Regions from separate parts of the Homo sapiens genome. Here region 2 is linked to region 1. The links come from fine-mapping of genetic effects on gene expression. A gene starts in region 1. The other region holds a variant in brackets. All regions are shown on one strand. Distances are between the middles of the regions.

Region 1 (4,391 bases):
AGCTACTCAGGAGGCTGTGGCAGGAGAATTGCTTGAACCCATGAGGCAGAGGTTGCAGTGAGCCGATTGTGCTGCTGCACTCCAGCCTGAGCAACAGAGCAAGACTCCATCTCGGGGGAAAAAAAAAAAAAAGAAGAAATAAACCAGAAACTGGCTGGCTCTGGACACACTGGTCAGGCCAAGGTACCCAGCTAGTAGCTAGAAATGCAGGGAAGTCTGAAGGAAGGTCAGAGCTAAAGGAAGATCCTAAATCAGCTTCAGTGGATTACAGAAGGCAGGAAAGAAGACAATTACTAATTGCAAACAGAGAAAAAGATGTTCACAGATAGTTAAAACCGTTAAGACTAGAAATGTTAAGTTTACTTGAATTTCTAAGAAAAGTCCCTACTGATTTTCTGGATTTCACGTAACTCATAAACTAAAATACATTTTTTACCTGGTTGTTGCGGTTTTCCTGCAGCGGAGAAGTAGCATCATCAGGAAATGAGCTTACATTTCTCCTCTTCAGCATCTGGTCATCCTTCTTAGCTTTCCTCAGCTCCACATTGACCTCTATTCTGCGACGCCTCATTTCCTTGAGAAAAGATAACATGCCGTTTCACCTATCACACCAGTTTTTGTTGCTAAGTGAGGGCATTTTTTTTTTAAATACCTCAGTTTTCACCCCTTTCCAAATGTCTTCCCATTTAAATACCACCACAGGAAAGCAACAGAAGGTACTCACTGTACTGTCTTTTCCCTTGTTCTTGAATCTGTGAAGACGGGCAGCTGGTGTATTAGCATTCTCGTTGGTGGACATGGTTATGAGACAAAGGGAGAAAGCTAAAAGATGGGGGAAGAGAAAAATATTTCCTTTATCATTTTCCTTTGTCAATAATAGTACCAAATAAGAACTGAATTATCAAGCATCTACTGAATCCACACCTGTATACTAGAGGGGGGATCATCATGTTTTCGGCACTATGAAATAGCTTTACCCAAAGGGGAAGTGTCCCCCTTCCCTCTAAAGGGCTGAGACTTCCTGGAGAGGGCTCTCCATCAGAAATAGAATGCAAGCTATATAAATTGAAACTTCCTAGTAGCCATATTTTTAAAAAGGAGAAAAGAAACAAGTGAAACTAATTTTAATAATGTATTTTACTTAACCCAACATATCCAAATAGTATTTCAACGTGTTATCAATATATAAAATAACTGACATCTTCTACATTCTTTTTCCATACTCCATCTTTGAAATCTTTTGTGTACTTTAAGCTTACAGCGTATTTCAATTTGGACTAGCCACATGTATCCACCGTTTCTGACAGCCTAGTTCGATACTCCAGAGTCCCTAATAGTTAATTCAAGACAAAGTAGGGGAACCAAGTCAACTTACAGCTAAAAATTATGTGCCAGGGCAATAAATTCAGATCCTCAGGAGGCTCTCCCTATTTTACTGTCTTTACTTGGCCAAAATAGGTGCAGACTCGAAAATTAAATAAAAATTTGCTTCATCATTACATTATGGTCAACATTAAAAATGCAGTGCCGCATCTCGCATATTTGATTTGCATTTCCAGAGACTAGGAGTGAATGCGCTTAATTAGGATGACATCAGCTGTGCGTCATTCAGAAGATGACAAAAGTCAAAGCCCTCCTTACAATTTGCTATCTTTGCTTTCATTACGCTCGCCTACGACTTGGTGGCAGAGCCACCCCCGGGGCCTAGGTGTCAGAGACGGTGCTCCCAACTGCCACCCCCAGCCCCTGCCCCCACGCCGGGGAAGATGCAACGAGAAAGGAGGAGGCGAAACCAGGGCCGCCACAAGTCCTCCCGGGACATTCGCCCTCAAGCCTGGCTCGCTCCGATTCTCCCGGCCGCGACGCGTTAAGGCCTCCGCTGCCGTTTGCAGAGCGTCGGCGCCCTAAACCCGCAGACCCCGCGAAACTCAGCCGCCTGGTCAATGAACGTCGCCCCCGAGGCCTAGTCAACGCGGGAGGCAGAGCCAGGCTCGGCGTGGACCCGGGGCCTCCCTCCCCCAACCCAAAAGGCGAACGCCGCCCACGGGCAAGCCGTTAGCGCTCGGGCCGGGCCGCCGCCTGAGTCTGTACCTGCGAAGCGGGCCTGGGCTTCCACGGGAGGCGATGCGGGGGGAATCAGCGGCTGTAGGGCGACTGCGTTCAAAGGGTCCACCTCGACTCAGCTCAAAGACCGTGTGGCTCGTGCAGCCGGCCGGCGCGATTTAAATTTCCCGGTGACTCCGCATTCCGATTGGCTGGTTCGAGCCTAAGCTGTGTGCCCATTGGTGGATTTGAAAAACACGTTGGGAGGGGAGGGAGTCATAGGGCTTGGGGGCGAGTGGGAGGGGGGAAAGAAAAAAAAAAAAAGAGGATGGCATCGCGAGATGAGGGAGCGGCCGGGCGGTGAGGGAGCGGCCGGGCGGTGAGGGAGCGGCCGGGCGGTGAGGGAGCGGCCGGGCGGTGAGGGAGCGGCCGGGCGGTCCCTGAGCGCCTGGCGGGGCGGAGCGGGAGGACTCCAGATCCCGTCAAGCAGCGCGAAGGGGCGGTTCCCTGGGCCGTTCGTGTTTCCATAGGGTTGAAGCGTGCATGGTCCTTGGGCGTTTTCCTGGGCGACAGCCTTAAACAAATACCACAAAATGATTCTCTAAGTCATTATTTTAAAAACTTTGTTGTTGATCTTCATGAAAATAAAAAAATTCTAATTAGTAAATAAGTAATCTTTATAGAAAAACATATTGCTTTGCATTTTTTTCCTATTATGACACCCAAAGTACTCGGCGGGGGTTTCTGGCTACTATGGGAGGGAAGATTTGTGTTATATTTTTTAGTTTAGTTTTTTTTTAATTGCATCATAAAAGACTGTATAGAAGCCGCAAATATGGAAACAAAAGGTTTCTTATGCCTGTTTCTCCAAAAACTCAAGTTTTTTATTTTTAAATAATTTCAAATGCAGCAGAATTGCAAATCTTTATCCAGATTTGCCAAATCTTAACATTTTGCCACATTTGCTATTGCTTTCTCTATACATATATATGTATACATATGCACGCGTGTACATATGTGTGATTTTAATATGTTACTTTAAGAGAAAGTTTCAGAATCATGTCCTTTTTCCTCTGTTTCACGGTGTCTCTCCTAAGAAAAGACATTCTCTTATATAACCACACTGCAGTCATCAAATTCAGAAAAACTGAAATTTCATGCTGTTGTTTAGTATGTAGTGTGTGTTCAAGTTTTTTCAATTGTTATAGTAACATTCTATGCTCATTACACATTTCTGAATTTTGCATTTTTTGCCATATGCTCAAACGAACAAACAAAACAAAGATGGTCAACAGAGCATCAGGATTCTGGGCCATTTTTGTTTCTGCAATTTTTTTGTGTTCTAAAAGATTACATTTTAGAAAAGTTTTCATGGTTTATTTCTTACTATAAATAAATTCAAACAGCAAGTTTGTCCATTTTTGCAGGCATTAATGCCAGCCTCATTCATCGTAAAGCCAGAGTTCATAAAGGGTTGGACCTACTCTTAATCAGCATAATCCCATCCCCCTAAATGCAAGAATGTGGAAGGAATTCACCCCTAAACCAATCACTGTGTGGCATTCTCTCAGCTACTGAGAATGGTTCAGGGGCAGGCACATGACCTAAATTCATCCAGTTGGACAGCCTCTGCCTTTTGTTTACTGGTTGGAGGTAGGAAAGCAGCCTCTGTTCTTCTGAACTAAGGGATGTGAGTCCTAGAAATCTGAATAAGAAAACTGTAGGGAAACCTTGAGAGGTCTGACCTGCTCTATCTCTGAAGGTTTGCAGGTAGGAGATCCGATACACATTTCTTTTGTATTGTCAAGTTGAGTTTCTTCTCTTTTTTTTTTTCTTTTTTTTCTTTTCTTTGAGACAGGGTCTAGCTCTGTCGCCCAGGCTGGAGTGGAGTGGCACGATCTCAGCTCACTGCGACCTCTGCCTCCTGGGCTGAAGCCATCCTCCCACCTCAGCCTCCCAAATAGCTGGGACTATAGGTACACACCACCACGTCCAGCTAATTTTTGCATTTTTTGTAAAGACAGGGTTTCACTATTTTGCCCAAGCTGGTCTCGAAGTCCTGAGCTCAAGCAATCCACCCACCTCAGCCTCCCAAAGTGCTGGAATTATAGGCCTGACCACCATACCAAGCCAAGTTGAGTTTCTTTTGCTTGAAAATACTGACTACTATGTGCCCAGAAGTGTTCTGAGTGTTTACCATATATTAATACACTTGATCTTCACAACTGTGAGGTAGTACTGTTATTTGCTCTATTTCACAAAAGAGAGCACTGAATCACAAGTGTTTATGTAACTTGTTCCAGGGTCACACAGCCAGTAAATGGCAAAGACAGGATTCAGCCATAAGC
Region 2 (4,391 bases), 130 kb before region 1:
ACGACCTCGGCTCACTGAAGCCTCTGCCTCCCGGGTTCAAGCAATTCTTCTGCCTCAGCCTCCCAAGTAGCTGGGACTACAGGTGCGCCACCACACCTGGCTAATATTTTTTGTATTTTTAGTAGAGATGGGGGTTTCACCATATTGGCCAGGCTGGTCTCAAACTCCTGACCTCATGATCTGCCTGCCTCAGCCTCCCAAAGTGCTGGGATTATAGGCGTGAGCTACTGGGCCCAGCAATAGATACTTTTCAATATTTGAAAAGAATATTGTTTGGGAAAACATTTCTGACAAAATTAAATTTTTTACATAAACTTATTTTGATGAAAATGTTAAGATACTTGTACTGTGAATATGACTGTTTTAATCCTTACATGTATTTTTTTTTTTTTTTTTTGAGATGGAGTCTCACTCTGTTGCCCAGGCTGGAGTGCAGTGGCGCCATCTTGGCTCACTGCAAGCTCCGCCTCTCAGGTTCACGTCATTCTCCTGCCTCAGCCTCCGGAGTAGTTGGGACTACAGGCACCCGCCACCACGCCCAGCTAATTTTTGTATTTTTAGTAGAGACGGGGTTTCACCTTGTTAGCCAGGATGGTCTGGATCACCTGACCTCGTGATCCGCCTGCCGTGGCCTCCCAAAATACTGGGATTATAGGCATGAGCCACCGCGCCCAGCCTTCTTACATGTATTTTTAAATCTTGACAATAATAATTGATTTTGCTGAAAGGAATAAAAATAAATTTCATGGAATAGTTTCAGTAATTTATAAATTACACATATCTTTATTTTATTACGCATCTCAATATTAAGAATTGCTTGAACCCGGGAGGCAGGGGCTGTAGTGAACCGAGATCGCGTCACTGCACTCCAGCCTGGGCAACAGAGTGAGACTCCGTCTCCAAAAAAAAAAAAAAAAAAAAGCAAAAAAATTTTATGATCTTTGATATTTTGCTAACTTTCTGTCATGTACAAATCATAGCTTCATACACATTTTTAAATTTTATCATTTTAAAGGAATATTTGTCAGGGGATGAGGTTAGAACATACTTTATTTAACACCCTGTTAGTTTAATTTATAATTTGGAAATATTTAGACAGATGGCCTGTGGCGTCCATCTGTCCTCTTGCCCCAAACTGCACGTCCAGACTTGACTCATGGGCCCCAGCTTGGGTTTTTGATAGGAATCTTCCCAGGGCTCATGTTTGTAATAGCTGGGGGGGCCAGGGGTGGAGGGTCCCTCTGGTCCCCCTTTGAATGCTGCAGACACCATCTTCTCTCAGATTTTAAGCTGCAGAGACCAAATTTCCAGCATGTGGTCCTGGGCTATGGAAACCTCTCCTCCTGCCCAGGACTCTCACTCTACAGAGATGAGTTCATTCAGGTCCCTGAAGCCCCTGTAGAGTTCTGGCCATAAATGGTTCCTCATAAAGTGGTGCCCCCAGGATGTTCAGCCTCCCCGCCCCCGCCCCTGCAGACCTCCTATCCCAGGGTGCCATATGCTGCTGCCCTGCTGGGAGGAGAAGCCCGGGGGGCATGGGGCAGCACTGCCTGCTTAGAAGCCCCTTGTAAACTTTCTTTCTGCCAGATCCTGCCGCCCTGTTTCAGAGGGTAGAGTGGGCCAGCAGTAACAAAATGTTTCCTCCCTTGCCCCTTTCTGGTAGAAATTTCTCCCAGACTTCCTTGGTGACTAATGGTGTTGGGATGTTGTGGCCTTCACAGGGAGGGGACAGGTTGTCAGCTCACAGTTTCACAGATGGTTGACCGATGCTGACAGTAGCTGGCAGGTTTCTTTTGGCTGCAAGTGACAGAAACCCAACTCAAACTTGTTCGCAAGTAGGGACATTTACTGCTTCTCAGAATTGAAGGAAGGGGAA[G/A]GGTGTGTTTGGGTCCCAGAAAGGGTGGACCGTGGGACTGGAATCCGGTCCAGACTCCACTCCCTCTTCACAGAAGCTTAGCACCTCAGATGGGCTGTGTCCTCTGGCCCTGCACACATGGGCTTCCTGTTGGAAGCTGAGCAGCTCCACCAGCTTCCCCTTATAAATGTAGTGACTGGCGCAGAAGCGTTCCTATGACTATGGGGGGTGACAGGGGACCGGGCACTGGCACTGGCAGCCCCCGCCTAAAACCCCATGAGAGAAGGAGTTACCCCAAAGGTGGTGCTGTTCCCAGAAAGGAAGGGAACAGCCCGTGCTCTCCACCCTGTCCCACCCAGCCATTTTCCTCACAGACGTCACCTGTGCTTCCAGGCCCAGCTGCTATTTCTGCCTGATGCTTAACTAATTTGCATGGTTAAAACCAGCATATTTCCAGGAGATGGATAATGTCACAGAACTGGGGTTCCAGAAGGCTGGGGTGGTCCAGCACTCCTGCCTTCTTTAGAACATGGAGAGCTGTTAGTTGGGCAGGGCTGAAGCGTAGGTGGCGAGGAACAGGAGGCTCCTACTGCAGATGGCCTTGTTCTTCGGATCCTCCCAGAAATCCCCAGGCCAGCTGGAACCTGGGGTCAGAGAGGGATGGGAGAGAGGTAGGCTGTGAAAGGGGGTGGGAACACACCTTCTGGAACCACTGTCTTCCTTGAGGGGACCCCAAGAGGGGGCTTGATGGGCAGGGATGGAGCTTCCTCCTTCCCGAGGCTCAGTGACACTTATCTCTGAGGGACCCTCCTGAGACAGTGTGGGGTAGTTTGTTGTTTGTCCGAAATTCTAATTTAACAGGATCTTGTAAATTTTATTTGCTAAATCTGTCAGCTCTGGGGGTAGGAGGATGAGAGGAGCAAAACAATGGTCCCAAGCTCAGGCTGGTATGGAGTGAGTCTTAGACAGAAAAAGAGACCAGAGAGGAAACAAGCCCACTGGGGTAGCCATCTTGTCCAACCGGAAGCCGCCTGACACTTGAAGGCGATGGATGGAAGAACTCAGCCCTCTGCCTCCTCAGCAACATGAACCTAGTTTAAGGGGAAAGACACACCTTCTCTCAGTGACAGAAATAGCCCCAGATTTTCAGATTTATCAAAAGTATTATTTTTTTCAGGCCAGGTACAGTGGCTCATGCCTGTAATCCCAGCACTTTGGGAGGCCAAGGTGGGTGAGATCAGGAGTTTGAGACCAGTCTGGCCAACATGGTGAAATCCCATCTCTACTAAAAGTACAAAAATTAGCCAGGTGTGGTGGACGGTGCCTGCAATCCCAGCTACTCGGGAAGCTGAGGCAGGAGAATTGCTTGAGCTCAGGAGGTGGAGGTTTCAGTGAGGTGAGATTGTGCCACTGCACTCCAGCCTGGACAACGGAGTCAGACGAAAGAAAAAGACAGACAGACAGACGGAGACAGAGACACAGAGAGAGAGTGAGAGAGAGAAAAAGAATTTAAATCAGCCAGTTGTAGTGGCATGCACCTGTAGTCCCAGCTATTTGGGAGGTTGAGATGGGAGGATTGCTTGGGCCCAGGAGTTTGAGGCTGCAGTGAGCTATGATTGCATCACTGCACTCCAGCCTGGGCAACAGAGTGAAACCCTATCTCTAAAAAATGAATGAATGAATGAAATTTTCACCAGAAGAGTTCTGCTTATATTTACTTTTTAAAATATTTTAGAGACACAGTATCACTGTGTTGCCCAGGCTGGTCTCTAAGTCCTGACCTCAAGCAATCCTCCTGCCTCAGCCTCTTAAGTAGCTAGGTACAAGCCACCATGCCTAGCTATATTTACCTTTTTTTTTTTGAGATGGAGTCTCTCTCGCCCAGGCTGGAGTGCAGTGGCGCAATCTTGGCTCACTGCAACCTCCGCCTCCCGGGTTCCAGCAATTCTTCTGCCTCAGCCTCCTGAGTAGCTTGGATTATAGGCACACACCACCACGCCTGGCTAATTTTTGTATTTTAGTAGAGATGGAGTTTCACCATGTTGGCCAGGCTGGTCTCCAACTCCTGACCTCAAGTGATCCGCCTGCCTCAGCCCCTCCAAAGTGCTGAGACTACAGGTGTGAGCCACCACACCCGGCCATATATTTACTTTTATGTGAATTTAAAACATGTAGGTGTGACCAACTCTTCTGCCAGCTCTTACATAAGGAGACTTTATCATCATCATCATGTTCATCATCACTCACAAACTGCTTATTTGGAACTCCCCTCAGTTCTCAGAGTGGGAACATTCTTTAAGCGGCCTTGTAGAAACCCTATTCCATGCTAACATGCCAACCAATTTTACTTTCCCAGAACCACAGAATGATATTTCATTGTATGCCTCGACTCAATCACCTTTCCTTTTTCAAGGACCATTTCAATGCCTGATTGGCTACTTGATCTGACTGCTTCCTGCTAATCTTGCTGCCTATTCTTGTCTATATTCCATTCCTCATCGAATTAACCTTGATCGAATCTGAGAACTCTGCTTAG

Direction of the effects. Positions count from the first base shown, and alleles are read on the strand shown. Sizes are in standard deviations (SD) of each study's normalised expression.
As copies of G replace A in region 2, the expression in left ventricle of the gene that starts at base 2,197 in region 1 goes up (moderate effect, 0.41 SD a copy in GTEx).

Evidence for each region. PIP is the estimated chance that this variant, and not a neighbour inherited with it, causes the effect. A credible set is the group of variants that fine-mapping cannot tell apart.
Region 2: its variant is the best candidate, but not a certain one, in a credible set for the expression of KPNA2 in left ventricle (GTEx, PIP 0.74).

What each region holds. Positions count from the first base shown.
Region 1 is chr17:68,033,541-68,037,931 of GRCh38, reverse strand. KPNA2 (karyopherin subunit alpha 2) reads right to left here and starts at 2,197. Exons shown (of 11, transcript NM_002266.4): 1 at 2,092-2,197; 2 at 725-822; 3 at 437-574. The coding sequence starts at 799. RefSeq lists enhancers at 1,665-1,884, 1,904-2,451 and a silencer at 2,415-2,464.
Region 2 is chr17:68,159,545-68,163,935 of GRCh38, reverse strand. No RefSeq gene overlaps it. Among named protein-coding and RNA genes, the nearest start is that of LINC00674, 60 kb to the right of the region's middle. The variant G/A (reference allele first, on the strand shown) is at 1,877.